Linked DNA regions of Homo sapiens: all the other regions are linked to region 1. The links come from fine-mapping of genetic effects on gene expression. A gene starts in region 1. Each other region holds a variant in brackets. All regions are shown on one strand. Distances are between the middles of the regions.

What was found.
Region 2: its variant is fine-mapped to the expression of APPL2 in whole blood (INTERVAL, PIP 0.96).
Region 3: its variant is fine-mapped to the expression of APPL2 in blood mononuclear cells (TOPMed, PIP above 0.99).
Region 4: its variant is fine-mapped to the expression of APPL2 in pancreas (GTEx, PIP above 0.99).

Annotation. Positions count from the first base shown.
Region 1 is chr12:105,234,029-105,242,331 of GRCh38, forward strand. APPL2 (adaptor protein, phosphotyrosine interacting with PH domain and leucine zipper 2) reads right to left here and starts at 2,146. Exons shown (of 21, transcript NM_018171.5): 1 at 1,931-2,146. The coding sequence starts at 1,984. RefSeq lists silencers at 1,725-1,974, 2,025-2,164 and an enhancer at 2,029-2,529.
Region 2 is chr12:105,180,821-105,189,123 of GRCh38, forward strand. APPL2 (adaptor protein, phosphotyrosine interacting with PH domain and leucine zipper 2) reads right to left here. Exons shown (of 21, transcript NM_018171.5): 17 at 7,453-7,627. Among named protein-coding and RNA genes, the nearest start is that of APPL2, 51 kb to the right of the region's middle. The variant TG/T (reference allele first, on the strand shown) is at 4,099.
Region 3 is chr12:105,261,842-105,270,144 of GRCh38, forward strand. No RefSeq gene overlaps it. Among named protein-coding and RNA genes, the nearest start is that of APPL2, 30 kb to the left of the region's middle. RefSeq lists a silencer at 282-456. The variant G/A (reference allele first, on the strand shown) is at 4,163.
Region 4 is chr12:105,278,271-105,286,573 of GRCh38, forward strand. No RefSeq gene overlaps it. Among named protein-coding and RNA genes, the nearest start is that of C12orf75-AS1, 45 kb to the right of the region's middle. The variant G/A (reference allele first, on the strand shown) is at 3,704.

The sequences.
Region 1 (8,303 bases):
TAAATATGCTCTGATGATCATTAAAGACCTTCTTAAAGTCAGCTTCCATTCTGCACAACAGCACCATCAAGAGCCCTCTTAAGGGTGATGGCCAAGTCTCAAAAGCAATGACAAATAAACTTCCTATATTAAAAGGAACATATTAAATAAGAATGATAATATCTCTAAACCTCCTCTGCCACATACAAGTTCAAAGTTATACACCATGTAGATATGACAATGTTAACTCTAAAGCACCTTGAAGATCACCTGCTCCCTCCCTGTCTCTCATTCTGTAGATGTTCTGTAGATTAGGAAACTGAGCCAGCTACAGGGTGGAGATGAAGAGACTCACCCACATCACATCCTAAGTGAGCGTGAGAGCCAGAATTAGAACCCAGGTCTCCTGACTTGCTCTACAGTCCTGTCTACTTCCTCACAGCTGGGCAAATCCTTTAAGCCACTCACAAACAGTGTATATTCCTTTATGTTAGAGCTGGAAATTAAGAATATGATCTGTTTGTGAGGACAACATCAAGAATCAGTTAGTATAATCACTGTAACCTGGCTTAGGCATCACCATGTAGGTTAGAAAAGCAGGATATTTCTGTGCACCTCAGTTTCCATAAGTGCAAGGCAAACAGAGATCCTTGTTCAAAGTGATCATTTAAAATCTCACATTGCTATCTTCAGATTCCACACAACAGATATGAACATGGACAAAATGCCTTCTACCAAGGGCTTTAGTCTGATTAAAATGCCAGGAGTCTACAGCCATATAAAAAAGGGAGGCCTTGAAAAAGTCGTCCAGAGGATGCAAACTTACCAAAAAACAAAACAAACAAACAAAAAACACACACACAGCTTGCTTCCAGTTCCTTACTTATCTACACTAGGAGGATCACAAAAAATGAACAAAAGACACCTATGCATACAGCCCTTCGGACTTATTCTGAACTGTCGATGTAGGTAAATCCATACAAGGATCATCCTGGGAAGTATTATTCACTTAGAAGAAAAAGGGAAGGAACCCCAAAAGAGAGGGGAAAGTGTGAAACGAAAATAGGTTAATCTTATTCTAAGTTTTCAAGAGTTGAGACACTAGGAAATAAAGGCACTTATTTAAATAAACCCGGGATGCTGAACCAGGAGTGTAGGTACGAAGCTGGAGAAATGTTAAACAAAGGAGAACAAAAGACCCCTGGGGAAAGATGTGCTGAATTATGAACTAATGTCATCCTGCACTCATTTGCTATATTTACACACCAGTTTTCATCTGCAGAGCTCAAAGGACTTGACTCTCATCTCGAGTGTGCTAATGAAGTTCCCTTGTGCGACAAATGGGGCAGGTACTGTATTTTTCTCTTCACTAATGGGAAAACGGTGCCAAAAGGAGGCCTGGTACCGCCGGAAAAGAGATCCAGGCCCTCTGCCTCTCATTCTGGCTGGCACAAGTCTCATCACATCATTAGGAGTAGCAGTAATAAGACTGACTCATTATCTGTACCGGACATTGTCTGCTGACAACTTTACAGGTATTTCTCATTGACTTCTCCTAACAACCCTATGAAGCAGGCACAATTATTATTCCTATTTTACAGACGACAAAACTAAGGCACAATAAGGTGGTTTTCCTGAGGCACTCAGCTACTACATGGAATCAAAGTTTAGATCTCGCAGACTCAGTTGCAGCTGAGCTTGCAGGGGGGTCACGACATCAAGACTCCGGCCGCGGGGCTCTCTCCCCTGTTCCACAGCTCTGCCCCGGCTCAGGACTCAGGGCCCGGCCCGCCCCCTCCTCAGCCCGAGAGAACCCGGTGGGAGGCGCCGCGAGGGGGCCGGGCGCACTCCCGCGGCTGCCCGGCCGGGGGCGCGGCCTCCACTCCGGGGCTGGAGGGGCCTCCTCGGCCTCACCCCTGCGGGCGAGGGGCACCGGAGCGGCGGGAGGTACCTGGGGGCTGTCCTGCAACGCCTCCTCTAGCAGGAGCTTGTCCACGGCGGGCATGGTGCGGCGCGGCTCAGCCGAGGGCTGGGTTGGAAGGACAGAGGGCAGGAGACGCGGCGGCCGAGAGCACTCCCCGGCTCTGGGCTCAGGCGACGCGGCGGCCACTCCGTGCCCGCGGCGGCCCCGCGCGCGTCCACGCCTGGCCAGTGGCCGCCGCCGCCTGCCCGCCGGCCCAGCCCCCGGCCGAGCCGGATCAACAGGAAGTGTGGCGCGCCCGGCAGGGAAACCGGAAGTGTGGTGAGCTCCGGTCCCGACACCGGAAATGTGGCGCCCGCGCTTCCGCCTGCGCTCGCCGGCTCGCGGGGAGCGGGGGGCTCTGGGTGCCAGTCCCGTTGCTGAGGGAACCCTTCGGGTGTTTGTTCTCTGTGCTGAAGGTCCGTCAAGTCAATGCATATGAAGTCCAAAAGAGGAACTCGAGGGTAGAAAGATAAGGTTTTATCTGCTTATGGCTACCCAGAAAGCCTTTTGAGTTGAAGGAGCGAACAGATTTTTTCTTTTAATGGAAGGAAAAACCCACACTTCCCACACCACTTTTTCTAGATAAATTTCGACGCCCCTGAAACAGCTCTGAGAGCAAAGAGGTCGCCTATGCTATGGGAACAAAGAAAAGAGGAGAAAAGCTGGATAACTGACTCGTCTGTGATAATCAGAAATAACCACTTTGGAAACCACAGCTATTTGATGTGGTCATAATTAGGTCTCGTCCTCCTGGTTTATGTTTTGTGATTTTGGAGAATTTCATAATCAAATGTTTAGAATTGGAAGGGCTAGATAATCTAGGTTCCAGTGTTGTCATTTAGAGATGAGAAAATGGGACCCAGAGAAATAAGTGGTCTGCCCAGGGTCAGTTAGTAAACGCCAGAGGAAGAAAAGAAGGAAGGGAGAGGGATGGAAGAAGACTGGCAAGTGGAACGTGACACCTTTTTACACGGAAGGCAAGGGTTTCTGAAGTTCCTTCTTTAGAAGTTAATAAGACTGGCCGGGCGTGGTGGTTCACGCCTGTAATCCCAGCACTTTGGGAGGCCGAGATGGGTGGATCACGAGGTCAGGAGTTCAAGACCAGTCTGGCCAAGATGCTGAAACCCCGTCTCTACTAAAAATACAAAAATTAGCCGGGCGTGGTGGCATGCGCCTGTAATCCCAGCTACTCGGGAGGCTGAGGCAGAAGAATCACTTGAACCCGGGAGGCAGAGGTTTCAGTGAGCCGAGAGGGCACCACTGCACTCCAGCCTGGGCAACAGAGCAAGACTCCGTCTCAAAAAAAAAAAAAAAAATCATGCAGTATGTGTGTCACCAAAATCAACAGAGGGGATATGGTAATATATAAATTCTGCATTCTGCAGAGACCTCTTAGGTATATCAAGACCCAATCTGCATTGCTGACACCTCTGACAGTCTAGTATAGTAGCATGCTGCCTGATCACTTGAAAACTCCAAGGCCATTATTCCCTTGGTCTGGCCAGCGCCAACCTGACCTGAACCATTTTATGGCCTCCATCTACCATATTTTCCTCCACAGTATTCTTTCTTCCCTATTCTTTCTTGCCTCCACCATACTCTTGTCTTCCCTATAGGTGGAATCATGCTCACACCATATTTCTTCCCTTTCCTCTATTTTATACCGCCTGCCATTCAGTTCATTTTACCTCATCCAGTGTCCCAGACTCTCTTCTCACTGAAATCTAATTCCTCACGGCCAGACTCATGCTCTTCCTTCATCCTGATTGCGAGAACAGTACAAGGATAGTATTATACCCAGGGAAATAAATGTGCACATTTTAATTTGAAAATATGCATTACAAGAAGTTAGTGCCCTCAGAACCCTTGAAAGGGCTCAGACAGCCCCTTGGGAATCACAGCATTTTTCATGTACCACCTCATCTTCTAATTAAAGTTACTTTTCTTCAAATACTAGTATTCAACATTCAAAAATTGTTTAAGCTATCCCATTACTTTTCTGCATTTTCTTGCTACATTATGGGCTAAACAGCCTTAGTGGGATTTCTTGGAACTTAAGAACTGTTTACAACATTGTTTCTATGGGAAAATCTATCCCAAATTCAAAACAACTAAGTTACAAAAGTAGATCTGGAAATACAACACATGCATAAATGGTTTTAATTTATCTCATTTGTTAATTCATCCAATCATTCATTCATGTATTAAATATAGACTGCTCAGTGTTAAGCACTGTCTCCCACTTGTTTGATTCTCATTTAAATTCTGAAGGCAAATATCCTCTCCTTTGATAATCTGTGAGAAACTACATAAGAGGAATTTTTATGTCAACATGAACATTTAAAAATGTTTCATTAAAGAGTATATATCTGTTCCTATTAAACTATTATGCAGGTGGATTTTAGAAATCCACCCCACTGTCTCTGAAATCCCTGGTCAGCTGTGAAGTTGGTGACAGGAAGTATAAAGATGGACAGTCTGGAGTTGTCGTGATGTCTGAAGAGAGAGAGGATGAATTATATGGAGGTGTAACCTGTGACCCATTGAAGGCCAGTGGGGAAAAGGACACAGTGAGACACAAAAAAAGGACCCAGGATGGCCAGGTCAGAGAAGGCCTGGGGCTTCAGGAGTAAGAGAGAAAGGCAGGAGTGAAGAAGGCAGCTGTTTTGGGAGATGCTTAGCAAACTGCATGATAGGGCACACGCATTGAGATTCTTTCCTCTGCCAGTCAAGCCCTTTCTCCTGCCTCTTGTCTGACAAACCCAACCACAATCATCAAATCCCAGTTTAATGTGACTTTTTTGATGAAGTCTTCATTTACTCCTGTCCCCCCAAGCAGAATACATTTTCCTTTCCTTGAGTGTGCTTCAGTAGCACTTGCCGAGATAATTCTAGAATAACACTTACCTCTCTTTGTTTCCACCTCCAACCTTCCAGCTAGAATGGGTAGGAACTTGGTCTTATTTATTTCTGTAATTAGAGTGCCTAGTACATTACCTAGCACAAAAGCAGTTGCTTGATAAATACTTACTAAACTATAATGTGTTATTATAACTTATACATGATTGATACTCCAGAGTTTAAAAAATGTTTTCATGAATCTCATTTCATTTGATAGCACAATGCTGCTTTTGCCGTTAATCATTCACTAGGTAGCACCGACTGTGTGTTAGACTCTTCTCTAGAAGCTGAGGATATAGGCTGAAGCAAAAAGTAGTCCTTGCCCTAATGGAGTTTATATTCTAATGGAGGAAATAATAAGAAACAAATACAAGTTGATAAGTGTATGATAACCTTTAGTAAAGGAATAGAGGATCATGGGAAGTGGAAAGGATTCTTTGAGGTGTGCAACTGTTGAGCTGAGAATTGAATCAGGGAAGCCCAGCCCGAAGGAAAGAACAAGTGTGAGGGCCCTGAGGCTTGCTCCTCTTTGAGGAGGAGCAGAAAGGCCAATGTGGCTAAGGACAGCGAGGCGGGAAAGAGTGGGAGGAGATGAGGTTGAAGAGATGCCAATCACTGGCTCACAGAGGACGCTGAGTCCATGGGGAAGGACTTTGGGTGTTGCTCTTGATATGGCAGGAAGCCACTGTAAATATGAGCAACTGAATGACAGGGTCTGATTTACATTTTTAAAGACTATCTCTGGGTTCTGAAGAGGCTTTTGCAATCCTTCAAGCAAGAGATTTGAGAGATATAGGTCAAAGTCGAGGGTATGGAAATGTTGGGAGGTAGTTGAAGTCTGAACATATTTTGAAAGTAGAACTGACAGGATATGCTGGATGTAGTATGTGAGAGAAAGTGGGAAAGCCATTGGGCAAATGGTCCTGTGATTTACTGAGACAGAAAACCCTGGGGAGAAGCAGGTTGTTGGTGGTGGCGCATCAATAGTGCTGTTCAGGCTGTTGTGATTGAGATGCCCGTTAGGCAATCAAGTGGAGGTTTCATGTGGGTACTTGTATATACCACTCAAGTTTAGGAGGAGACTGGGGCTGAAGGTATAAATCCATGAGTTCACCAACATGGGGACGTTATTTAAACCAAAAGAGTAGATGAGATTTCTTAGGAATCTAATACAGAAAGGAAAGAGGAAAGCTTGGTGGATTGAGGCCCAAGCAAGATCCAGCAGCTAATGGTGTAGGAGGAATATCAGGAGACTAATAGACCACCCTAGAAGCCCTATGAATGGGAAACTTGGAGGCACTACTATACTAAAAGCCAGGGGACAAAAGGTTTCAAAAATGAATTGATCCACAATGTCAAATGCAGCTAAGAGATCAAGTAAGAATAAAGACCAGAAATTGACCTTTAAATTTGCCAATAGGAAGGTCATTCGGTGAATTTGGTAAGAGACTTTGATAAGAGCAATTTTATTTGAAAGCAAGATGGTGTCTGTTCAAGAGCAATGGTGGGAATACAAAGACAATTCTTTCAAGAGGTTTTTCAATAAAGGGAAGTGGTTGAAGGGGAAGTGACTGCAGGGGATGATTTAAAAAAAGGGAGGTTTTTGGTTTGTTTGCTTGTTTTAAAATAGAAAAGTTGTAGACTTTAGGCAAGGTATTTAATCTTTCTGAGCTTCAGTTTACTTCCCTATGATATGAGAATGGCATTACCAATCACAAGTTGTTTCCATACACACCTGTCTCTATGTCCTGTATTAGTCAAGACTTTTTAAGTGGCAAATCACAGAAACCTAACTCCAACTGGCTTAAAGAAAACATAAAAGTCTGAAAGAGATTGGATTTCTTAGATTATTTATATGCTGATGAGAATGATCCAGTAGAGTGGGGGAAAAGCTAAAGATATGAGAGAGAGGTGACAATTGCAAGAACAAAGTCCTTGAACAGACAAAAAGGAGTAGAATCCAAATCACAAGTGATAGGCTTGGGAGGCTGAGGCAAGTCGATCACTTGAGGCCAGGAGTTCAAGACCACCATGGTGAAACCCTGTCTCTCCTGAAAATACAAAAATTAGTCGAGCATGCGTGTGAGCACCTGTAGTCCCAGCTACTTAGGAGGCTGAGGCAAGATAATCGCTTGAACCCAGGAGGCAGAGGTTGCAGTAAGCCAAGATTGCACCACTGCACTCCAGCCTGGGTGACAGAGTGAGACTCTTTAAAAAAAAATGCAAAAAACAAATCACAAGGGATAGGGATGGCCTTAGATAGAAGCAAGGACAGTACGTTCATAGTGATACAAGAACAGTAGGTTGGTAGATTAAATGGGAGGAATGAAGGCGTTCTATTCTGATTGCTTTTATTTTTCTCAGTGAGATAAGAAGCAAGGCCATCGGCTCAAAGCAATAATGGTCAGATGGTATTGAAGGTTTGAGGAGAGAGGAGATGGCATAAAATAGTCATCTTGGAGCACAGGAAGGTGAGGCATAAGTATTAGTATCCTCATTTGATAAACGTTACAACTGAGGCTCAAACAAATGATGTGACAGGGCCCAAATTCTAAATGCCAGGGCTCTGCCCACTGTACCCAAAGAGAAGAAGGAAGCCTGCTCAGTAGGAAGCTTCAGACTACCCAAACCTAGGATTCCTGTCCTTTTACCTCCCAGGTGCCTACATAGTGTCTGACTCACAACAAATGCTTTCCTTTCCTTTTCTTTCTTTTTTTTTAAATTTTTTTTAATATTTATTTATTTATTTATTTATTTTTGAGATGGAGTCTTACTCTGTCGCCCAGGCTGCAGTGCAGTGGTGCCATCTCAGCTCACTGCAACCTCTGCCACCTAGGGTTCAAGCAATTCTCCTGCCTCAGCCTCCTGAATAGCTGGGATTACAGGCGCCCACCACCACGCCCAGCTAATTTTTGTATTTTTAGTAGAGACGGGGTTTCAGCATCTTGGCCACGCTGGTCTTGAACTCCTGACCTCATGATCCACCCATCTCGGCCTCCCATAATGCTTTTCAAATGCTTGTTGAATGGCAGCATTCAATCCTGTTCTCTCCACCCAAAACTTGTGACTCAGGTTCTGTATCACCGACTGTCCTCTCATTTGCTTTATGAGACAAATGAGACTGTCCTCTCATTTGTCCTCTCATTGCTCCCTGTAGCCAGTCCATGGAAACAGAGAGGAAATTCATGACCTCCAAGGAGGTTTGGAGTCCTTCACGCCTGAGAGATCACCATGGAAAACAATGAAGGGGAGAAAAAAGCTCGTCAGTTCTCAAGTATTCATCTCATGGTGGCGACTGGCCTTTGACTTTCACTCAGGATACAAATTTGATCCTGCCACTCCGCTATTTAAAATCTTTGGTGATAATAAGAGGAATAACAATAATTGCAAACAGACACTTACTTATTGAACTATTACTATGTGCCAGGTACTATACTAAGGATTTTACCTGCATTATCTC
Region 2 (8,303 bases), 53 kb before region 1:
AGACTTTGCTGACGTTGCTTATCAGCTTAAGGAGTTTTTGGGCTGAGACGATGGAGTTTTCTAAACATACAATCATGTCATCTTTAAACAGAGATAATCTGACTTCCTCTCTTCCTATTTGAATACCCTCATTGCTTTCTCTTGCCTGACTGCCCTGGCCAGAACTTCCAATATTATGTTGAATAGGAGTGGTGAGAGAGGGCATCCTTGTCTTGTGCTAATTTTCAAAGGGAATGCTTCCAGTTTTTGCCCATTCAGTATGATACTGGCTGTGAGTTTGTCATAAATAGCTCATTATTTTGAGATATGTTCCATCAATACCTAGTTTATTGAGTGTTTTTAGCATGAAGGGGTGTTGAATTTTATCGAAGGCCTTTTCTGCATCTATTGAGATAATCATGTGGTTTTTGTCATTGGTTCTGTTTACGTGATGGATTACATTTACTGATTTGCGTATGTCGAACCAGCCTTGCATCCCAGGGATGAAGCCAACTTGATCATGGTGGATAAGCTTTTTAATGTGCTGCTGGATTCAGTTTGCTGGTATTTTATTGAGGATTTTTGCATTGATGTTCATCAGGGGTATTGCCCTGAAATTGTGTTTTTTTATTGTGTCTCTGCCAGGTTTTGGTATCAGGATGATGCTGGCTTCATAAAATGAGTTAGGGAGGAGTCCCTCTTTTTCTATTGTTTGGAATAGTTTTAGAAGGAATGGTACCAGCTCCTCTTTGTAACTCTGGTAGAATGTGGCTGTGAATCCATCTGGTCCTGGGCTTTTTTTTGGTTGGTAGGCTATTAATTATTGCCTCAATTTCAGAACTTGTTATCGGTCTATTCAGGGATTCAACTTCTTCCTGGTTTAATCTTGGGAGGGTGTATGTGTCCAGGAATTTATCCATTTCTTCTAGATTTTCTAGTTTATTTGCATACAGGTGTTTATAGTATTCTCTGTTGGTAGTTTGTATTTCTCTGGGATCAGTGGTGATAATCCCCTTTATCATTTTTTATTGTGTCTGTTTGATTCTTCTCTCTTTTCTTCTTTATTAGTCTGGCTAGCAGTCTATCAATTTTGTTAATCTTTTCAAAAAACCAGCTCCTGGATTCATTGATTTTTGAAGGGTTTTTCGTGTCTCTATCTCCTTCAGTTCTGCTCTCATCTTAGTTATTTCTTGTCTTCTGCTAGCTTTTGAATTTGTTTACTCTTGCTTCTCCAGTTTTTTTGAGATGGAGTTTTGCTCTTGTTGCCCAGGCTGGAGTGCAATGGCATGATCTCGGCTCACTGCAACCTCCACCTCCCTGGGTTCAAGTGATTCTCCTGCTCCAGCCTCTCCAGTAGCTGGGATTACATAGGTGCCTGCCACCACACCTAGCAAATTTTTTGTATTTTTAGTAGAGACAGGGTTTCATCATGTTGGCCAGGCTGGTCTCAAACTCCTGACCTCAGGTGATCCACCTGCCTTGGCCTCCCAAAGTGGTGGGATTACAGGCATGAGCCATGGTGCCCAACCTTCTAGTTCTTTTAATTGTGATGTTAGGATGTCAATTTTAGATCTTTCCCACTTTTTCCTGTGTGCATTTAGTGCTATAAAAACATTGCTTTAGCTGTGTTCCAGAGATTGTGGTATGTTGTGTCCTTGTTCTCATTGATTTCAAGTAATTTATTTATTTTTGCCTTAATTTCATTATTTATTTACCCAGCAGTCATTCAGGAACAGGTTGTTCAGTTTCCATGTAGTTGTGCAGTTTTGAATGACTTTCTTAATCCAGAGTTCTAATTTGATTGCACTGTGGTCTGAGAGACAGTTTGTTGTGATTTCTGTTCTTTTGCATTTGTTGAGGAGTATTTTACTTCCGATTATGTGGTCAATTTTAGAATAAGTGTGACGTGGTGCTGAGAAGAATGTATATTTTGTTGATTTGGGATGGAGCATTCTGTAGATGTGTGTTAGTTCCACTTGGTCCAGAGCTGAGTTTAAGTCCTGAATATCCTTGTTAATTTTCTGTCTTGTTGATCTAATATTGACAGTGGGGTGCTAAAGTCTCCCAATATTATTGTGTGGGAGTCTAAGTCTCTTTGTAGATCTCTAAGAACTTGTTTTACGAATCTGGGTGCTTCTGTATTGGGTATATATATATTTAGGATAGTTAGCTTTTCTTGTTGCATTGATCCCTTTACCACTATGTAATGCCCTTCTTTGTCTTTTTTGATTTCAAGTCCGTTTTATCAGAGACTAGGATTGCAACCCCTGCTTTTTTTTTTTTTTTTTTTTTTGCTTTCCATTTGCTTGGTAAATCTTCCTCCATCCCTTTATTTTGAGCCTATGTGTGTCTCTGCACATGAGATGGGTCTCCTGAATACAGCAAACTGATGGGTCTTGACTCTTTATCCAATGTGCCAGTCTGTGTCTTTTAATTGGGGCATTTAGCCTGTTTACATTTAAGGTTAATATTGTTATGTGTGAATGTGATCCTGTCATTATGATGGTAGCTGGTTATTTTGCCTGTTAGTTGATGCAGTTTCTTCACAGTGCTGATGGTTTTTACATTTTGGTATGTTTTTGCAGTGGCTGGTACTGGTTTTTCCTTTCCATATTTAGTGCTTCCTTCAGGAGCTCTTGTAAAGCAGGTGTGGTGGTGACAACATCCTTCAGCATTTGCTTGTCTGTAAAGGATTTTATTTCTCCTTTGCTTATGAAGCTTAGTTTGGCTGGATATGAAATTCTGGGTTGAAAATTCTTTTCCTTAAGAATGTTAAATGTGTGCCCCCACTCTTTTCTGGGTTGTAGCGTTTCTGCAGAGAGATCCGCCGTTAGTCTGATGGGTTTCCCTTTGTGGGTAATGTGACCTTTCTCTCTGGCTGCCCTTAACATTTTTTCCTTCATTTCAACCTTGGTGAATCTGATGATTATGTGTCTTGGGGTTGCTCTTCTCGAGGAGTATCTTTGTGGTGTTCTCTGTATTTCCTGAATTTGAATGTTGGCTTGTCTTGCTAGGTTGTGGAAGTTCTCCTGGATAATATCCTGAAGAGTGTTTTCTAACTTGGTTCCATTCTCCCTGTCACTTTCAGGTACACCAATCAAATATAGGTTTGGTCTTTTCACATAGTCCCATATTTCTTAGAGGCTTTATTCACTCATTTTCATTCTTTTTTCTCTAATCTTGTCTTCACACTTTATTTCATTAAGTTAATCTTCAATCTCTGGTATCCTTTCTTCCACTTGATCGATTTGACTATTGATACTTGTGTATGCTTCACGAAGTTCTCGTGCTGTGTTTTTCATCTCCATCAGGTTATTTATGTTCTTCTCTAAACTGGTTATTCCAGTTAGCAGTTCCTATAACCTTTTATCCAGATTCTTAGCTTCCTCGCATTGGGTTAGAACATGCTCCTTTAGCTTGGAGGAGTTTGTTATTACTCACCTTCTGAAGCCTCTTTCTGTAAATTCTTCAAACTCATTCTCCGTCCAATTTTGTTCCCTTGCTGGCAATGAGTTGTGATCCTTTGGAGGAGGAGAGGCATTCTGGTTTTTGGAATTTTCAGCCTTTCTGTGCTGCTTTTTCCTCATCTTTGTGGATTTATCTACCTTTGGTCTTTGATGCTGGTGACCTTTGGGTGGGGTTTTTGTGTAGTCATCCTTTTTGTTGATGTTGATGCTATAGCTTTCTGTTTGTTAGTTTTCCTTCAGGCCCCTCTTCTGCAGGTCTGCTGCAGTTTGCTGAAGGTACACTCCGGACTCTCTTTGCCTGGGTATCACCAGTGGAGGCTGCAGAATAGCAAAGACTGCTGCCTGCTCCTTCCTCTGGAAGCTTCATCCCAGAAGGGCACCCACCAGATGCCAGCTGGAACTCTCCTGTATGAGGTGTCTGTCGATTCCTGCTGGGAGGTGTCTCCCCGTCAGGAACCACCAGAGTCAGGGACTCACTTGAGGAGGCAGTCTGTCCCTTAGCAGAGCTCAAGCGTTGTGCTGGGAGACCTGCTGCTCTCTTGAGAGCTGGCAGGCAGGAACATTTAAGTCTGCTGAAACTGCGCCCACAGCCACCCCTTCCCCCAGGTGCTCTGTCCCAGGGAGATGGGAGTTTGATCTGTAAGCCCCTGAC[TG/T]GGGGCTGCTACCTTTCTTTCAGAGATGCCCTGCCCAGAGAGGAGGAATCTAGAGAGGCAGTCTGGCTACAGCAGTTTTATGGCGCTGCGGCAGGCTCAGCCCAGTATGATCTTCCTGATGGCTTTCTTTACACTCTAAGGGGAAAACCACCTACTCAAGCCTCAGTAATGGCGGATGCCCCTCCCCCCCACCAAGCTCGAGCATCCCTGGTCAACTTCAGACTGCTGTGCTGCCAGTGAGAATTTCAAGCCAGTGGATCTCAGTGTGTTGGGCTCCGTGGTGATGGGATCCACTGAGCAAGACCACTTGGCTCCCTGGCTTCAGCCCCCTTTCCAGGGGAGTGAACAGTTGGGACTCGCTGAGGTTCAGACGCCACTGGGGTGCGAAAAAAATTCTCCTGCAGCTAGCTCAGTGTCTGCCCAAATGGCCGCCCAGTTTTGTCCTTGAAACTTAGGGCCCTGGTGGTGTAGGCACTCGATGGAATCTCCTGGTCTGCGGGCTGCAAAGACAGTGGCAAAAGCCTAGTATCTGGGCTGGATAGGTCTGTCCCTCACTCACGGCTTCCCTTGGCTAGGGGAGGGAGTTCCCCGACCCCTTGTGCTTCCTGGGTAATGCAATGCCGCACGCTACTTCTGCTTGCCCTCCATAGGCTGTACCCACTGTCTAACCAGTCCCAGTGAGATAAGCTGGGTACCGCAGTTGGAAATGCAGAAATCACCTGCCTTCTGTGTTGGTCTCACTGGGAGCTGCAGACTGGAGCTGTTCCTATTCAGGCACCTTGTCTGGGAATCAATTTTTCTTTTTAAATCTTCTAATTTTCTGTGTGACCTCTAAATGGTCTCAGAACCTATTCCACTGCAGGGGTATGTTTACTGTGGTGACGTATGCATAACGTCAGATTTATCATTAGTGATGTTAAGTGTCTTCATAACTTTGTGCAGCCATTACCACTATCTAGTCCCAGGACATTTTTATCATCCCAGAGGAAACTCCATCCCCATTAAGCAGTTACTCATTCCTCCTCCCACCCTCTGGCAATCTCTAGTCTGTCTTCTGTCTCTATGGATTTGCCTACTCTGGATATTTCATATAAACAGAACCCTACAGTATGTTGCCTTTTGTACCTGGCTTCTTTCACTTAGCACAATGATTTCATCATTCATCCATGTTGTAGCACTTATCAGTCCTTTGTTCCTTTTTAAGGCCAAATAGTATTCCATCATATATATATACAGGTTGAGTATCCTGTATCTGAAATTGTTTTGGATTTCAGCTTTTTTTTCAGATTTTAGAATACTTGCATTATATTTACCAGGATGAGCATCCCAAAATCCAAAATGCTCCAATGAGCATCTCTTTTGAGCATCAAGTTGGCACTCAAAAAGTTTCAGATTTTGGAGCATTTGAGATTTCCAGATTTGGAATGCTCAACTCTACCACATTTTGTTGATCCATTCATTTGATGTTGGGCATTTGTATTATTTCCACCATTTGGATATCACGAAAAGGACTGCTATGAACATTTGCGTATAAGTTTTTGTTTGAACACCTGTATTTAATTCTTTTGGGTAACTACCCAGGAGCCCGCCAAACTATTTTTTCACAGCAGCTGAACCATTTTATATTCCCACCAGCAATGGGTTCCAGTTTCTTCACATCCTTGCTAAACGCTTATTTTCCATTAAATATATATATCATATATATATCATATATATCATATATATGATATCGATATCATATATATCATATATATGATATATCATATATATATCATATATCATATCATATATCATATCATATATATATCATATATATCATATATATATAAACATCTGTGAGACAGTGTGCATGCGTGCGCACGCCATCTTAATATGGAGTGACATATCTCATTGTGGATTTGTTTTGCATTTCCCTAGTAACACATAGCATCTTTTCATGTCCTCATTGGCCATTTGTATATGATCTTTGGAAAAATGTCTATTTCAAGTCCTTGGTCCATTTTTTAATTGGGTTGTCTTTCTGTTGAGTTTTATAAGAGTTCTTTGTATATTTTGTGTACTACATCCATATTAGATAGAATTTGTGAATACTTTTTTCCCATTCTGTAGTTTTTCTTTTCACTTTGATGTGCTGTGGTTTTTCACAGTACTTTTACATATATTTTCCTTTGATCTTTTTGGTGGAAATTATTCCAGGACCAATAGGATTATAAGAACCATGAGCCCATTTCTGTAAAAGGTCCAGGACATAGTGAAAGAACAGGTTTTATTAATAAGAACTTAATTCTCAGATAAGGTTCATAATAAATGAAAAGGATGGGCTTAATGAATGGAAGAAGCTATATCCTAATTTTTGCTATAGTCCTAGTTACCTTTTTTGAAGCTAACGTTCATTGAGCACTTTTCATGTGCCAGTGAGTTGTAAATGTCTTACATATATTAGCACATTTATTCCTCATGACATTTATTCCTCATGACAACAGTGGAGGGTGTGAATAGTTACTTTCATTTTACAGCTGAAAAAACTGAGGTACAGAGGCTCAAAAATTTGCTTAAGGTCACATAACTAAGAAATGCCGAAGCCAGGAATAAACTGAGACATTCTGGCTCTAAAGCAGTGCTGTCCCTTAGAAATGTAATGGAAGCCTTATATGTCATCGAAGTTTTTCCAGCGGCCACATTAAGTGAAAAGTAACAGATAAAATTAATTTTACTTAATCCAGTATATCTAAAATATTACCAGACATGTGATTAACCTAAAAAATTAGTGAGATGTTTTACATCCTAAATCTTAGAAATTTGGTATGTATTTAACACTGAAAACACATCTCAGTTCAGGCTAGTTTTGCTGCAGATGCTACCTGTGGCTACAGTATCATACACCCATGTTCATAACCAGGATTTTGGTCATATCTGAAACCCAGATCGTATTACCTGAAACACTAAATCATGTAGTTAATATGGCCTGCTCTCTCTGTGATGGCCAAGTTATTTAGGCAGATTTTTAAGTTTTTTTCCATTATTTTTTATAAATAGTACTCTCAGAAATGAAAAAAAAAAAGCAAAACCAAAAAACTTCCATTTTCAAGCTCTGAGCTATAATATAGAGAATAAGTCTAGTGTGATGGCATCTTTGTGAACAACAGTATTCACTCACCACTGGATTTTTGAAGATACCAGTTCTTGTCTCTAAGGGAGCACTTTCTAGGCTATCTATCTTATGTAAAAAGTAGTGGGGGCAAAAGCAAGAGTAGTCTCTTCATTCCAGTACTAACATTTCAGATGGGTGCATTAGCCTTAAAAGGGGAATTAGCTGAAGCCATAAGAAAGTCTGAAAATAAAACTGAACGTACCTCAAAGATTGACTGGTGACCATCAGATGGGATTCTGTCATGCGGAAGATGTTATGAATAGCCCGAGCAGCCAATACTTGTCTCATCGCTTCATAAATCACTTCAGTAGTGCTGTCTGTTTTAACTGCCATTGATCCCAAAAACCGAACTATAAACATCTGCTGCAAAAGAGAATCTGGAAGACAGCATTTTCCACTCAGGATCTCATTTACTTCCTGCTGCTGTTGATCTGCATACCAGGGTCAGATGTGCTAGTTTTGCCTGCTTTCTGTGGAGGACTTTCTACCAAAATTTCTCAATACCACTTTTATAAGCCCAATATTGCCAAAGCTCTGCGTCTTCCATTTGTCTACATCTTGTCAGTTTGTTTGGAACTACTTCATTAGACTAGAAAGGCTTTTCTTCATCTATAAAATGAAATGATGGTGGTACCAGATGAACATCCTTCTAATGCTGAAACTCTAGGTGACTACATTGTACCTTTTCTCTGAAAAGAGTGAGTTCACTAGACAATAGAAAATTCATTACTTTGGCCCACTGATAAAGTCCTCTTAGAAAAGAAATTTTATTTGCAGGATATAAGATCTCATGTTGGGTCTCATGCAATTCATACTTCATGTGTATTACGGAAAGGCAGTGATGATGTTTCATAGCCTAAAGGAAGTCAGTCCTGGCTGCTGACAGTGGCGCATAACTTGACAAAACTGACTCCCAGCAACCATAACTAGAAGACCAAAGAAGGTTTTTTCTTTTTTTTCTTTTTTGAGACAGGGTCTCACTCTGTAGCCCAGGCTGGAGTGCAATGGCATGATTTCAGCTCACTGCAACCTCCGCCTCCCAGGTTCAAGTGA
Region 3 (8,303 bases), 28 kb after region 1:
GCCGCTTTAGGCTTCTTTGTTCCATGTTGGGGAGGGGTTTTTTTTTAATGCTAATAAACTTGAAGGGCCCATTTTGAAATAATTTCATTATGTGACTGTCAAGAAAATGCCACAAAAGTCTCACAGACATAAATAACTGCCATCTTCAATTTGTAAAACGTCTTATTGCCCACTGGTTTTGTATTCTAGAGAGCTTAATGCTTTTTCTCTATCCTTTTACTTGTACTGTTAATTCCCTCTGCTTTTACATTCTTAAGGAAAGGGTTTTCATTTCACAAGTCAGGTAGGGTTTTCTCAGTGTTTTGGACTTTCACATCCTGGGAACTTTTGTTTTTGACTGCTAAGAACCCATCAACCTCCTGGCTAGGGTCTTCCTGTACCCAAGCTGTGCCCAGGTTTCCAGTATAAGAGGTTGCAAAGTAACAAACTCAGTCTGAGGGGCTGGGTGGCATTGAGCATGCAGATCCAAGGTTTGACTACTGCCACTGCCACTCTGTGTGACGTTGGATAACTGACTTACCCACTCTGTGCCTCAGGGGCGTCGTTGTAAATTGGGGGTAATGAGAGTGCCTACCTCATGAGGTTACTGAGAGGATGAAGTGATTGGCTGGCACATTGTGAGTACTAGGGAAATGTTAGCTATTACCATTATTGCATTCTAATATCCCAGTAAGATATTTACGTTTGTGGCAAATATTCCTTAATATGTTCTTTAATCTGATGTGTACTGAAGTGGAGAGTTCAGTTATTGAAGTTGAAAGATCTTGGCTTGAGGCTCAACATTGCCACATTCTAAATATGTCACTTTGGGCAAAATATGGAACCCATCTGGGCTTCAGTTTTCTCAACCATGAAATATGCAGGGGATGGGGAGCTGGATAATTTCTCATTTATTCATTTAACAAATATTTGTCGAGCACTTAACATTCATCTCCAAAATCTATATGATAGTTGTAAGCATTTTATGTGGACTCGATATGATCCCAGGTGTTACTTTTGCAAGTAGAGTTGTTTGTCAGGGGTTCTCCCTCATTGCATTTTTCTCATGCAGATGAGCAGTGGATTTAATGTTTCTGTGGCTTAGGGATCTCTTTGGGTATCTGGGGAATGCAGAGCAACCTCTCCACACGCCGACATACACACAGGCCAGACAGAATTTGGGCACAACCTAGGGGCTGGCTGACAGCTTTGCAGTCTATTTGTGGCTCTCTGGGGCCCTAAGAGCAGTGTACAGATTGAGAGTTGGACCACTCAGATTCTGCCTAGCTGGGAATCCTGGAAATCAGTAGGAAAAGGAATATGGTGGCAGCTACCCATTTGAAGATCAACTGAATAAGACACGAAACACTAACACAGGCAGAAAGGTCTCTGTCAACCAGCTGGCAACTCCTGCTACAGGTGAAATCAGGGAATGAAAACTTTTTTTATCTTTCTGCAAGACTAAGTCTTGCTATGTTACCTAGGCTGGAGAGTAGTGGCGTGGTCATAGCTCACTGCAGCCTCGAACTCCTGGGCTCAAGCACTCCTCCTATCTCAGCCACCCGAGTAGGTGGCACTACAGGCACACACACTACACTTGGCTAATTTTTAAATCTTTGTGTAGAGGCAGGATCTCATTATGTTGCCAAGGCTGGTCTCAAACTCCTGGCCTCAAGTAATCCTCCTGCCTTGGCCTCCCAAAGTGCTAGGATGAGAAGCGTGAGCCACTGCACCTGTAAGGAACGAAAACCTTAAAAAATGAGGTGTATGTGGATCATCTAACTCCCCTGCTCAAACCCTCCCATGTTCCCATTACACATGCTGTAGAATCCAAGGTCCTCTCCATGGCCTGTAGGGCTGTACCTGGTGGGGCCCCGGGCCCCCTTATTTCACTCCAACAATGCCACCCTATTGTGTTTCCAAACACACGCAGTAGGCTCCCTTTCCTTCTGTTTGGGGCTTTCTTAACCTAGATCTTCTCATGAAGCCTTTCTTGTGACTCAGGTCTCAGCCCACTGAATCTAAAGTAGTTCCCAGACACTCTCTATTGTGTATGTTTCTTCTCTTCCCGCCACTTGTCACCATCACAGTTTCCATATTTATGTATATGTTTATTGTTGGTTTCCAACATGAAAGATATACTTCTTATGAGAGTAGAAGGAACTTTGTCCCATTCCTTGCTGTATTCTCAAGGTTAAGCAGAGTACCCAGCACACAATTGGAGCTTGATCAGAAGTTGTCAGTTAAATGAATGAATAAATACACGGGTGAGTGAGGACAGTCATTGGGAAACTTGCCCTCCTCTCCATTCTATTAGGTTGGTGCAAAAGTAATTGCAAAAAGTAATTGCAAAAGTAATTGTACCAATCTAATAGAATGGAGGGGAGAGCAGGTTTGCTGACACCACCAAATGCTGGCAAGGATGTAGAGCAACAGGAGCTCTCATTCATTGCTGGTGGGAATGCAAAATGATACAGCCACTTTGGAAGACAGTTTGGCTGTTTCTTACAGAAATACACGTACTTTTACCATATGATCCAGCAATTGTGCTCCTTGGTATTGACCCAAATGAATTAAAAACTTATGTCCACACAAAAACCTGCACATGGATGTTAATAGCAGCTTTAATAATAATTAACAAAAGTTGGAAGAAACCAAGATGTCTTTCAGTAGGTGAATGGATACATTACTTTTATGGCAAAAGTCTCAATTACTTTTGTGCCAACCTAATAATATCATGCTATTAACAGAGGAGGCGGCGTGGGGTGAGGAAATGCCACTAAGAAAGTCTCAGATGAGTCTCAGCATCAAGGTGATGTGGCACATTGAGGAACACAGAACCTGGATCAGCCTGGCTAGATTCAGTCCGTATCTCTGTGCTGTCTGGTAAGTTCTTAAGAGTACCATATACTAACTGATTGCACCACTGGAGCTACAGGTAAGTTCTTTAAACTCTCTGCAAAATGGAGGTGATAGTAAAAGTACCTGCTACTGTTTTGAGTACTAAATACAATCATACATACAAAGCTCTTAGAATAGTGGCTAGCAGGTGGGCACGGTGGCTCATGCCTGTAATTCCAGCACTTTGGGAGACGGAGGTGGGAGGATCACTTGAGCCCAGGAGTTGGAGATCAGCCTGGGCAACATGATGAAACCATGTCTCTACACAAAATACAAAAAATTAGCTGGGTGTGGTGGTGTGCGCTTGTAGTTGCAGCTACTCAGGAGGCTGAGGTGGGAGGATGACTTGAGACCAGGAGATAGAAACTTCAGTGAGCCATGATCGCACCACTGCACTTCAGCCTGGGGGATAGAGTGAGACTCTGTCTCAAAAAAAAAAAAATTATTGCTATTAGGTCATTGCTTGGTAAAACTTTAAGCCTCTGCATTCACATCCACCTCTTGCCCCCACCTCATCATCAGCTTTTCCAAATGCTGAGCACTGCCCAGTAAGACAAAAGCCTGCCCCAGAGGTTCTCAGAATTCTCCCCATGACACTCCCATGTGCTATGGAAATTTCTAGGTTCCTCCCATTTGGCTTTACTCCATCCCTTTCCCTCATACTAAAGAAAGCGTTTTGGAAAACAGGTGAAATATAAAGTTATAAAGATAATCTTGCATCTTTTTAAACTTAAGAACAAAGTGTAAATCGTTAGAAAACTTGATTATTTGTCAAATGATCAAGACAAATGAGATTGAAAACCACTGGCCTTCATGGCATGCTTAGCAAGAAAGGGACTAAAAATGAAATGGGTAAGAAAGCCCTGAACAGTAACTTCTGTGGTCCCAGGAAGTAGTCAGTGACATTACCTGGAAGTGTTACAGAACCAGCCCCCAGAGAGGGACCTTTCATGAGTCCCACCAGCAAGTGACACTGTTTCCCAAAAGTAATAGAATTGGATCCCTTCCCCTCCACAGGGGAGCTGCAAGAGCTGTGTCCTCAAGCAAATAGAGAGAGAAGCCACCCCCTCTGGGATAAGTAGTACATCGTTGACACTTTGTAGGGCTAGCCTTCCTCAGCAATGTAAGTGATGTAAAAAATGGTGCCGAAATATGAACAACAATAAGATACCACTACACACCTATCAGAATGGCCAAAATGCAAAATGCGGACAACACAAAATGCTGGAAAGGATGTAGAACAACAGGAACTCTCATCCATTGCTGGTGGGAATGCAAAATG[G/A]TACAGCCACTTTGGAAGACAATTTGGCTGTTTCTTACAAAACTATGTATACTCTTACCATATGATGCAGCAATTGTGCTCCTTAGTATTGACCCAAATGAATTAAAAACTTATATCCACACAAAAACCTGCACGTGGATGTTAATAGCAGCTTTAATAATAATTGACAAAACTTGGAAGCAACTGAGGTGTCTTTCAGTAGGCGAATGGATAAATAAACCAGGGTACATTTAGACAATGAACTATAATTCAACGCTTGAAGGAAATGAACTATCCAGCCATGAGTAGACTTGGAGGAAACTTCAAAGAATATTATAAAGTGAAAACGCCCATCTGAAAAAGGCTATATACTGTATGAGTCCACCTATGTGACATTCTGGAAATGGCAGAACTATGAAGAGAGTGAAAGTACCAGTGGTTGCCAAGGGTTGCGAGGAGGGAGGAATAAAGAGGCAGAACGCACAGAAATTTTAGGGAATCCAAACTGTCCTGTATGATACTATAATGGTAGATACATGTCGTTATACATTTGCCAATACTCATAGAATGTACACCAAGAGTGTCAACTATGGACTTTGGGCAATAATGAGATGACAATGTAGGCTCATCCATTGTAATAAATGTAGCCACTCCAGTGTGCGGGTGTTGATAGTGTGGGAGGCTGTGTTGTGGGGGGCAGAGACTATATGGGAGCTCTTTGTACTTTCTATTCAATTTTGCTGTGAAGCTAAAGCTACTCTAAAAAATAAATTCTGTTTTAAAAACCCTTTAAATTAAAGCTTGAAAAAGTCCATGGAGCAGAGATCTGGAATAAGTAGTCCCATGCAGGAAGTCCCATCCCAGCATGTCAGAGTGGTAGACACAGAACATCCGCAGAACAAATGATTCCAGCCCAAAGACCAGAAGAAAAAGACTTATCTTGACCATCCTTTCCTTAGGGTTCTTTTCTTAGGGTTGCACTTCCTCTGTGAGGAGGGAATAGGAAAATGATAGTCAGACCCCAACAAGTGGTGGTTTGTGATAGAACTGTATTAACTGAATAATAAAATGTATATAGTTCTCCCTTCTATTGTGTTCAATTGCACTCCTCATTTTGTGGCCTTTGTAAAACCCCAAAAGGAAATCTTTGGAAAGCCATAGTTATGGATCTATATATCTGAACTGGGTTGTGTGACTGTCTCAGTTTGGGTTCTTCCCAAACCAGACCCTGAGACAATAATTTGAGTATAAGTCGTTTATTTGGGAAGTGCAGGGAATACTGGTAGGAAACGGGGAAGTGACACAGGAAAGGAAGCTAGTAAAGCCTCCATTATTTTATTCTTATTCTTATTCTTATTCTTCTTATTATTATTTTTGAGACAGAGTCTTGCTCTGTCACCCCAGGCTGGAGTGCATTGGCGCGATCTCGGCTCACTGCAACCTCTGCCTCCCAGGTTCAAGTGATTCTCCTGCCTCAGCCTCCAGAATAGCTGGGATTACAGGCGCCTGCCACCATGCCCGTCTAATTTTTGTATTTTTTAGTAGAGATGGGGTTTCACCATGTTGGTCAGGCTGGTCTTGAACTCCTGACCTCAGGTGATCCACCCGCCTCGGCCTCCCAAAGTGTTGGGATTACAGGTGTGAGCCACTGTGCCTGGCCAAGGCTCCATTATTAAACCAACTACTGCTGTAGGCAATTGAAATGTAATTTCACAGGGATGTTCTAAAAAATGGCGTAAAAAACACATCTCAGAATAATTCTTCCTGAGTAGCAAGTGGCTAGGGGAGATACATTTGGAGGGCTATTGGAGTGCAGACAGGCTGTGGTCATTTCCTGGTGCTTCTCTGCACAAGCATATGTCAGTTAGAATAGCTTTCCATGGTTCCAAAAAGAGCCTCCAGGCCCTAGAGGCCCACACTGGGAGCTGTGTCATCAGCTGGAGCGTCGGTGAAGACTGTAAGCAGGACACTGGTAACAGCTGCTACATTAACCACTGCAATCATCCAGGTTCATCTGGTTCCTATCCCAGCCCCACCATTACCAGCTATAAGATCTTCAGCAAATTTGTAACCTTTCTTAAGACTCGGTATTAAAGCTTAAGAATTAACACCAGCTTATGAGGTGGCTGTGAACATCAACTAAAAAATGTGTGTCAAGTAACCCTGGCACATAGTTTCAATTTATATATATGCGTGTGAGTCTGTGTGTGTTTCTGTGTTTGTGTGTACACATAAAGACACACACACATATTTCTTGGAGTAGTGAGATAAGAGACTGCGCTCATTGAATGTAGCTTTAGCAAGGCTCACTTAGACCCGAGAGGGCTACATATTACCGACCACACTGTAAAAGACTGATTTTTATATCAGATCATCACCCCGTTATTGAGCATATAAAATGTAAACAGGATCTAGATTGGCATTCCCTGGGCTTTAAGAAACTTTCAAGAAAGTAATACAAGAGAAAACTTCTGTAGCTGTCAGATGGCTTCCTGGCTCTCCCTGCTCTTACTTAGGCTATGATTTGGTCCTATAAACAAGACCCAAGTCTGGCTTTTTCACTAGTGGGAGAGTGACTCTCCTCTCCTAGCAGTGGAGATGAGGAAACAGAAGGTGCTGTAGCTTTCCAAGGGAACTGTTTATCTCAAGATGCCTCAAGGACCTCCACGTTCTCCTCTCAGTTTGGGGCTGTGGCTTACTCCACTGCTAAAACAATGAAATCTGCCCCTGAACAATAATTGTTTTATGGAAAGAAAAATGTTGTCAAAAAAAGAAAATCTTCATTGTTTTGCAAAATCTCTAAAAGGACCAGATATAAACTGTTGATTGACCAGTGTGCTTATTTTTCAAATGGAAAAATAACACCTTTTTTAAAAAAGTGACCTTTCATACAAAAGATACTGAAATTTTACAGGTCTTTCTTTTTTTACTGAGATATTATTGACATACTGAGAAAAATCTTGTATTAAAAAAACTTTTTGGTATTAAAAAAGGATGGATAATAGCTGCATTTGGTTGGATGTAAAATGTTAGGATTCAGAATTTGATTTGGATTTTAAAGTCAATCAATCTTCCAGTCAACATTACTAAAGGTCCAATTGGCAAGAGTATAAACTAAAAGAAGGCAAAATATTTAACAAAAGTTGATGGTTATTGAGTTTTCAAAAGAATGTCACTTTCTAACAGTTGTTCTTGAGAAAGGTTTTGCAATATCATCTGGGTATTTTTAAGTAAAGGACCAAGGTTTGGTTTCTGGTTTGATGTAAGGGCAGTTTGAGCCAGAACCAAGAAATGTACTGGTTCACTTTTTACAGTCTCTTCTTATCCTACACTCCTATGGCCTGACTGCAGCGAGGGATATCTTGAAAAGCTACCAGTTCAGTGGGTCTCCTCTGGGCATTCATTAGTATACCTACTTTGTTCGTAGAATGATTTCTTTCAAGCCTGGAACCAGAGTTGATTTTTGTACATGCAATTTCTCCTAACTCATTTCAATGTTTTGTTTCTCATGATACATTTTAATCTTTCTTAATTTTAGCCTTTTTACTTAGTCACCCCAATTCTTCGAACTGTCTGTACGTGTGATACCCAAGGTCTTATACCCTATTCTGTTCAGAGGAATGACCAGACAACCCAAACTTATAGCTTTCCACTTACAGACTCACTTAAGCCCTGCTAAAGTGGGACTGAGATTTTCTGATTGCTTCTCTATCTGTCAGAATTTTGATTTTTAATCCCTGTCTGCTGGGTTTCAAAGTTCATGCATTTTCTTTATATCACGCACCTCTCTTTTTGGGTGCAAAACTGAAAGACAACAGCCTTTATATTTTTGATGAGTGTATGACTAATGCTGTTGCATCTGGATCGGAAAAGAGGAAATTCATAACAAATGGCCAGCAGTAATCACCTCTAAAGTACTTGAAATTGGTTGGGAAAAATTTTCAGAAGCTTTCCCAAAATTTTCATTTACCTCTTCTAGTGATTTTGGAGTTTCCCAACATAGATATTTAAGATTTTTAAAATGTTCCTTATTCATTGTATTTGCTTTCATATTTACTTTCATTATCATCAATTGAAACATCTTGTTCCTGCTATTTTTTTCTGCAAATAGGTGAATTTGAACAACATCAAGGCATAAATAGGCCTCTGTGGGCTGATCTGG
Region 4 (8,303 bases), 44 kb after region 1:
TGTGAGTGCACTAAGTACTTCACACACATTATTTCATTTAATTCTGAAAACTCTATTAGGCAGATATTGAGTCCCATTTTACAAGTGATAAAATAGAATCCTGAAGAATTTAATGTTAGCAGTGAGTCAACAGCAGGCAGTCAGGACTAGTAGTACTGACCCCAAAGTCCATACACTATTAAGCTACCACTCGTTTGAGCCTGAGCTGCCTTAGAGATAAGGAAAGGGCAGAGGGCATGCATGTGTGGGAAAGCAAGCTGGACTACAGGGCCTTGGCACTTGGCTTTTTGTTCCCCTGCTTGTGCTGTCTCTGGGACTTCAACATTCCTTAGATCAGTCACCTAACACTGATGTCCTCCCAGGTTCTCGACCCTGGCTCTCTGCTCCAATAACATTCCCCTCCTATCCATTTGGCTACCTCTACTTGCCTGATCACACCTTGGGACTTGCCATTTCTCCAAATGGGCCACCTCTAGAAGTTAAAATTGTGAAGTTCTTCTTGTATCAGATCATCTAGTACATATCCACAAAAATAAAAAAATAAAAAAAAAATTAAAAGCGTCTTATTAGTCTACCTTTTTCATGATCTTGTGTCCATTAAAATCATTCTTCCCCTTTCTTTCTTCTTGACTCCTCCCTATCTTCTAAGCCTGTCACCCCTCCTGGCTTCATTTTATCTTCTTCCTTTTCCACCTTGGCCCATATGGTGCATCAATGAATTCACTACATCTACCTAAATCCCCTCACCTCCTTGACTTTCTGGTAGTTCTCAACCCTGCCTTAATCATGATTTTGATTTAGAATGCTTACCCTGTGTCAGACACTGTTCCCGGCTCTTTTTGAAGATTAATCCGTTTAATCATCACAACCTATTTAGCCCACATCCTATGGGCTAAAGTCAGTCATGTACTGCATAACAATGTTTTCGTCAACAACTAACTGCATGTATGACAGTGGTCTCATAATATTAGGATATCATATTTTTACTATACCTTTTCTATGTTTAGATACACAAATATTAGGTTGGTGAGAAAGTAATTGCAGTTTTTGCCATCACTGCAATTACTTTCGCACCAACCTAATACTTAGCATTGTGTTACAATTGCCTACAGTATTCAGTACAGTCACATGCCATACAGGTTTGTAGTCTAGGAGTAACAGGCTCTACCTTACAGCCTAGGTGTGTAGGAGACCGTACCATGTAGGTTTGCGTAAGTTAACTCTATTATGTTCACACAATGATAAAACTACCCAGTGATGCATTTATTAGAATAAATATCCATCATTAAGTGATGCATGACTGTACCCTTATACTCTCATTTTACAAATAAGGAAACTGGGGCACAGTTGTTAAATAACTTGCCTGATGTTAAACAGCCACTAGGGGGCAGAGCCAGAATTTGAACCCAGGCTGTCTAGCGCCAGAGTTCATGCTGGTAATCAACACACTGTGCTGCCTTACCCACTGTACTGTGCTGACAGCCTTCTCTCTTCTTCACCGCTGCTTCTGGTGATTAAATGGCTATATAAACCTGCATGGTCAGGGCTTGCAGGAAGTCTCACTTCACTAACAAAGCTAAGTTCATCAACTCCTATCCCTTCTACACCAACTTCTCTGCATGCTTACCTGGTCTCTTCCTTACTCTTCACCCTTGGAGTATGTAGTATATAGTAGGGCGAGATGCACAGAAAAATCAAATAACTCAAGTACAATAGCCCTTATCTGTAATTAAGTTATTAGATTTTTCTGTGCATCTCCGCCATACTACAAGCCAACCACCACTAAAAATCCATGGGTTGGAAATAGGTAGAGCGATCCAAGGGTGTGCTCTACCTAAGATTTCCAACCCATGGGCTCAGCTCCTAAGTCAGTGCTCACCAAGCCTGATAGCACATAAAATGCGCCCATTTGCACAGCAAGTAGAGAACAGAATTTCTGCCGTTCCCCCAAATGAGCATTTATTAAGCCTGAGTGACTCCCTGGGCACCACTGGAACTATCCAACTCTAGCCTTCCAATCACCCACCCTGTGTGTCTGGCCTGACTGGCAGAGGTAAGTCATGACTTGTGTGGCTGAACTCGCACTAGCCTTTTCTCTCGGGGGTTGAACTATGTTCTTGTCTATGTCCAGTGGCTAGAATTTTCCTTCATCCCTGGGGAAGTTTCTCCTGGAACCAAAGTAATGCCACCCACCTTGTAATGCATCTTGTTGCTGCCTAAGGACTACTGTGGCCACATCCCACCTCTGGGGACTGACCATTCTGATCAGTGGGTCAACCTTTTGTGTGTCACAGAAGCACTTAAGAATCTGATGAAGGTTAAGAAGAACTCTTTACTGATATATGTATCATTTAAGCAAATATCCTGGAATTTTGCAAACAAATTTAAGGACTTACAGATTTCCCTGAACTTTTTTTGCAAAACTACTCATTTTTGTAACCAGTATAGAATCTTGTATGGGGCACTTAGTAAATGTTTGTTGAATTGAACTGCATGAACTAAATCTCAATTCAGCAATCCTAAATGCAGAAACAATTACACACACACACACACACACACACACACACACACTAGTTATTTGTTTTGCTCCAGAAAAGGACTTAAAGTGGTTAATATTTAGACATTTGCTTCTTTAAAACATCTTCATAAGTATCGAGACTCAGTAGAGACAAATTCCTTTTCCACTTAATTTAACAAAGACTCAGAATTTTTTTTTAAAGAAATAGTATCAGAATACAAAATGAAAAAAGCAAATCGCCCAAAACCAGTTAAAGGACATAAAACTGAATTCTTGTAGTTTGCATATTTCTTATCAGAGTGGTTCTTAGTCCCCTCCCTCCTCCCAAATTCAACAAAGCCATTGTTAACAGTGACTCAGACTACATTGATTCCAATGAGGGTTGGCTGTGGGCCACACTTTTACTTGGGGATCACGGCAAACTTTCTGGGGAGAGGCCATAGTTTAGAGGAAGGCCTCCAGGGGATTCTGATATCTCTGCCTTTTGGTATCCCCACTCTCATTAGTGTCCTAGGATAACAAGTGCTACTCAATCATTAACTCAGTTTGGCTTATTGGGCACAGAACCTTCTGTTCCTCTGTTGATCTGGTTAGGAGAGCAGGCTTTAAACCGTCTGAATTTGAATTTTGGGTCTATCACTTGACCTCTCTGTGCCTTAGCTCCACTGATATCACCTGCCAAAAGCCCTCTTTGGTGCTAACAGAACACAGATCTGTTCTGATATTAGTGTGATGTCCCTTGACCTCGGGTATTCCTATACCCTATCCCAGCCCCAGGATATGAATCATGATTGGTCAAAAATACTCATAGAAATCTTATTCCTTTTGGTCAGCGATTAGTCTAAAGGTGGGCTTGCAACCCAGGTATGACCAGAGAGATGGAAAGGCGAGTCAGCTGAGGTAAGTCGGGAACATAATCCATACCAAATATAAGGCAGATCCTTAGGAGGAGAAAATCCTTCCTTGTTCTTCCTGCCTAGATGCAGACATGATCCTGGAGGGGCAGCAACCACCTTGTGGCTTGGAAAGGAAAGTCAACATGCTAAGAAGGCAGGAAGGGAAAACAGAAGGAGCCTGGTAGTTGTTTGTTGTTGCTGTTTGTTTTAGAGTCCAGTAGTTTAATTGTATAGTGCAGTTTCTGCATCAGCTCTGGACTTTGGACTCCTTATTCAGTGAGAAAAATAA[G/A]CAATTCATTTGTCAAGCCCCAGTAAATTTTGTTATGTACAACTGAATGCATTCTTATCTGATATACTCAGTTTATAATTTATAAAGTGAGGATAAAAACAGTACCAATCAGAAAGGAAGTAAAATTACCCTTGTTCACAGAGGACATAATCTTATATCTAGAAAACCGTAAAGATTTCATTTAAGAAATCCAAAGTGTTGAACTAATGAATGAATTCAGCATAGTTGCAAGATACAAAGTCAATGCACAAAAAAAATTCTGTTTCTTTATACCAACGGTGAAATTAAGAAAACAATTTCCTTTTTAATAGCATAAAAAAGAATACAATACTTAAGAATAAACTTAACTAATGAGGAGAAAGGCTTGTACATAAGTATCAAACATTGCTGAAAAAAGCTAAAGAAGGCTTGGCTAAATAGAAAGTCATCCATGTTCATGGGTGATTATTGTTAAGATGGCAGTACCATCTAAAGCAATCTATAGATTCAATGCAGCTTCTATAAAATTTCAATGATACTTTTGGCAGAAATAGAAAAGCCCATCCTAAAATTCATATGGAATGTCAACGGACGCCAAATACACAAAACAATCTTGAAAAAGAACAAATATGGAGGGCTCCCACTTCCTGATTTTAAAACTTACTACAAGGCAACAATAATCAATAGTAGATTACTGACATAAAGACAGTGAAATAGAATAGGAAGTCCAGAAATAATTTCTTGCTTGTATGGCCAAATAATTTTTTTTTTTTTTTTGAGACGTAGTCTCACTCTGTGGCCCAGGCTGGAGTCCAGTGGCGCGATCTCGGCTCACTGCAAGCTCCGCCTCCCGGGTTAATGCCATTCTCCTGCCTCAGCCTCCTGAGTAGCTGGGACTACCGGCACCTACCACCATGCCCAGCTAATTTTTTTGTATTTTTAGTAGAGACGGGGTTTCACCGTGTTAGCCAGGATGGTTTCGATCTCCTGACCTCGTGATCCGCCCGCCTCGGCCTCCCAAAGTGCTGGGATTACAGGCGTGAGCCACCATGACCGGCCATGGCCAAATAATTTTTGACAAGGGTGCTAAGATAATTCAATGGGGGAAAGAGCAGATTTCAAAAAATTGTGCTGGGAAAACCAGACATCCACATGCAAAAGAAGGAAGTTGAATCCTTATCTAAGATCATACACAAAAATCAACTCAAAATGAATGAAAGACCTAAATGTAGGACCCCAAACTAATAAATTCCTAGGAGAAAACATAGGGAAAAAACCTCATGACATGGATTGGATAATGATTTTTTGCATATTACATCAAAAGCACAGGTAGCAAAAGAAGAAATAGTTTTTCATCAAAATAGAAAACTTGTACAACAGCAAACGATATTATCACAGAGTGAAAAAGGCAACCCATCGAGTGGGAGAAAATAATAGCAAATCATGTATCTGGTGAGGGGTTAAAATCCAGAATATATAAAGAGCTCCTACATCTCAACAACACAAACAACTCAATTAAAAAATGGACCTTAATTACTTTAATGTACTGTAATTAATTTACTTAATTGGAGGACTTGAATAGACATTTCTCCAAGGAAGATGCACAGATAGCCAATAAGCACAGAGAGATTCATCACTAATCCTTAGGAAAATGCAAATCAAAACCACAATGAGATGCCACTATAAGGTTAATGCTAAACCATTGGCAGTACCCAGAAGGAGAAGTTAAGGAGTCTAATCTCTCCTCTGGCTGCTGTGTGGAGGATGGACTGTGTAAGGGTAAGAGTGGAGGCAGGGGAACTCGTTGGGAGATTGCTGCAAAGATGAGGCCAGACATCATGGTTTCAACTTGGGTGATGAGATGTAGGGTTGTGGTTCTATTTTGGAGGTTGAGTCAGCAACATACATGGCTGGACTCGATGCAAGATTTTAGGGTGAGGGAAAAATCAGAATAAGCTCTAAGTTTTGTACCTGAGCAATTGAGAATATGACAGTGCAATTTACCAAAAAGAGGAAGGTTTAGTGAGGAAGCAGGTAAGGGGCTGACTGGTAGGGGAGAGAGAGGAGTAGAAAAGTAGATAGCTTTGTTTTGGTTCTACAAAATTCGGATGCCTACTGGACTTCCAAGTTGATATATGATTCTGGAATTGGGGGGTTGGGAATTGAGTATCATAAATATAGAGATGGTACTTGAAGTCAAGGGAGAGAATGTAGAGAAGAGACAGGGCCAAGGATAGAAATTTGAGCTACCTAAAAGATAGAAGCCTTACAGAAAGGAAGAACAAAATAAAAAGGCTGAGAAAGAGTGGCCACTGAGTTAAGAGAAAGTCCAGGTGAGTGATCTTACAAAGGCTCAGAAAAGACTTTCAAGAGTGACAGCATGGTCAACTGTTGCTGAGAGGTTAACTAAAAGGTAATGAAAAAGGAACTAGGCTTTGGCTAGATGTAGAGTATCTACATCTTGATAATGACCTTGATAATGGAGAAGTGGTAGAGATAATAACCCAACTGGACTAAATTGAATACAGAATGGGAAGTAGGAAAGTGAGGATATCAAATATGGACATGTCTATATAGGAACTTCGCTGAGAAGAACTTTGTGGTTGATTGGATGTGGTGGGTGAAGCAGAGAGAGAGACCAAAAATCTCTCCCACAGTTTTGATCTGTGCAACTGAGTGGATTGGAGGTGCCAGTCACAGAAGCTGGGTTGTTGGGTTGTTGGTTCAGGATGCTGGGAGGCTGGGGAGTTGAGAGGGATGGGTGCCTTCAGCTCCACATCTACCCAGGGCTCTTTGGAATTTTTGTGAAATGATGGAATCCTTCCTTCTTTCTGGGGTAAGGCACATGGTCATTAATTAACAAAGATTAATTTCACAAAAAACATGTAAAAGCCCAACAATTTACACATGGGTTTTAATTTGGGTGCGTTTTTAAAATGCAAAACAGCAAAAGGCAAACATGAGCTCTTAAATCCCTCTGCTGTACTACTTCTGAGATTGAGAAATCACTTCTTAATTATTAAGAAATACTCTCTAACACAAGCAATTTTCTTTTAATTTTCTTTAAAAAACAGCAATCAGCATACACTGCTTTCAGTTGTTCAAATGAATTAGCCTCAATTTATAGACTCAGTACTGGGAATTATTCCAGAATTACTTACTCTAAATAAGTTATTAAACATAGTTAAAGCATAAAATAAAAGTTGACTTTTTTAAGTTCGGCCAGCAAAAAGGAAAAAATAACCTCTTTAATAATTTTTAATTTGAAAAATACTTATATGTAAAGACCACCCCTTCTCCAATTCCTGAGATTACTCTGCCAATTTCACAAGAGTTTCCTGCTTCTAACTGCTATGGATTTCTTGTTTTTGGAACACTTAAGTTATATTCATCAAAGAGATGAATATGAGTATCTTATATTTTAAAAGCTGGAAAACAATTTCAAAAGAATCATAGTGCTTTTCCTGCAATAATGTGACAAACTGTAAAAAGAACATTTAAAAATTATCAGTATCCCTGGAAAGGAGGAACATTTAGTTTTAGATCTTGCTGATGATTGTGAATTTCTTTAATATTTATTCTTGTGCTAGATACTCCTTTTTACCACATTGTTATAAAAATGCTTATTTCAGCAAATCATTTTCAAAGGAAGAACAAAGTGAACACTGGAGAAGGTAGGCACTTCCTTTCTGAAGTTTAGGGAGAAACTTTTTCTTACTGCTGGTGATTACCTTCTGAGAGACACAGGGTTGAAACCGAATGTTCATTTATGATTTCTGCTTCTCTTCCTTCTTTTTCTGTCACTGCTCAAAACCTTATTTGATAAGCTGTGTTTTTAAACCTGATTTAAAATTTACAAAGAACACAAGGGCATACAAAGAAACATCCTCCGTTACCTCCCCAGCCAGCCAGTTACCCTTCCCAAAGGTAATCAATGTTTTCAGTTGGTCATGGATTCCCCCCTCCTGATAGTTTATGCATTCACACGCAAATACTTATACACCTGCATAGGTATATACATTTGTCCTTAAAGATAACTTTATAGTTTGAAGTAGTTTATAGCAAATATTTCAAAAAAATTTTTGTAACATCACAAGAAGTTACAGAAATGGTAATCTTGCATTAGCATAGCATATAGTCAATAAAAATGATATTGGTATAATGCTACCAATTCAAATATAAACCTTATTCTATACACTTATTTCTACCCATCCTATTTTTCCCCCCAAATAATAGCATGTTGTACCTTTTGTGCTACATATTGCTTTTCTAAATTTAACAGTATAACTTGGAAATCATCTCATATCAATACACAGAGCTCTTCCTCAATCTTTTAAAAGTCTCCGTAGGGTACTACTGTATGAAAAATCAATTTAACCAGATTTCTATTGGTGGGATTTTTAGTTGTTCCCAATCTTTTGCAATTACCCATAATTCCATGATGAATAATTGTCTACGTAAGTATTTTGCACATATCTCTAGGAAAAATCCTTGGAAGTAAGATGGCTGGATCAAAGCCTATGTGGATATGTAATTTTAATATTGCCAAATTAGCCTCCAGAAAGATTTATCAATTTACATTTTCCCCATCTCTGTGTGAGGGAATTCTTATTTCCTCAAA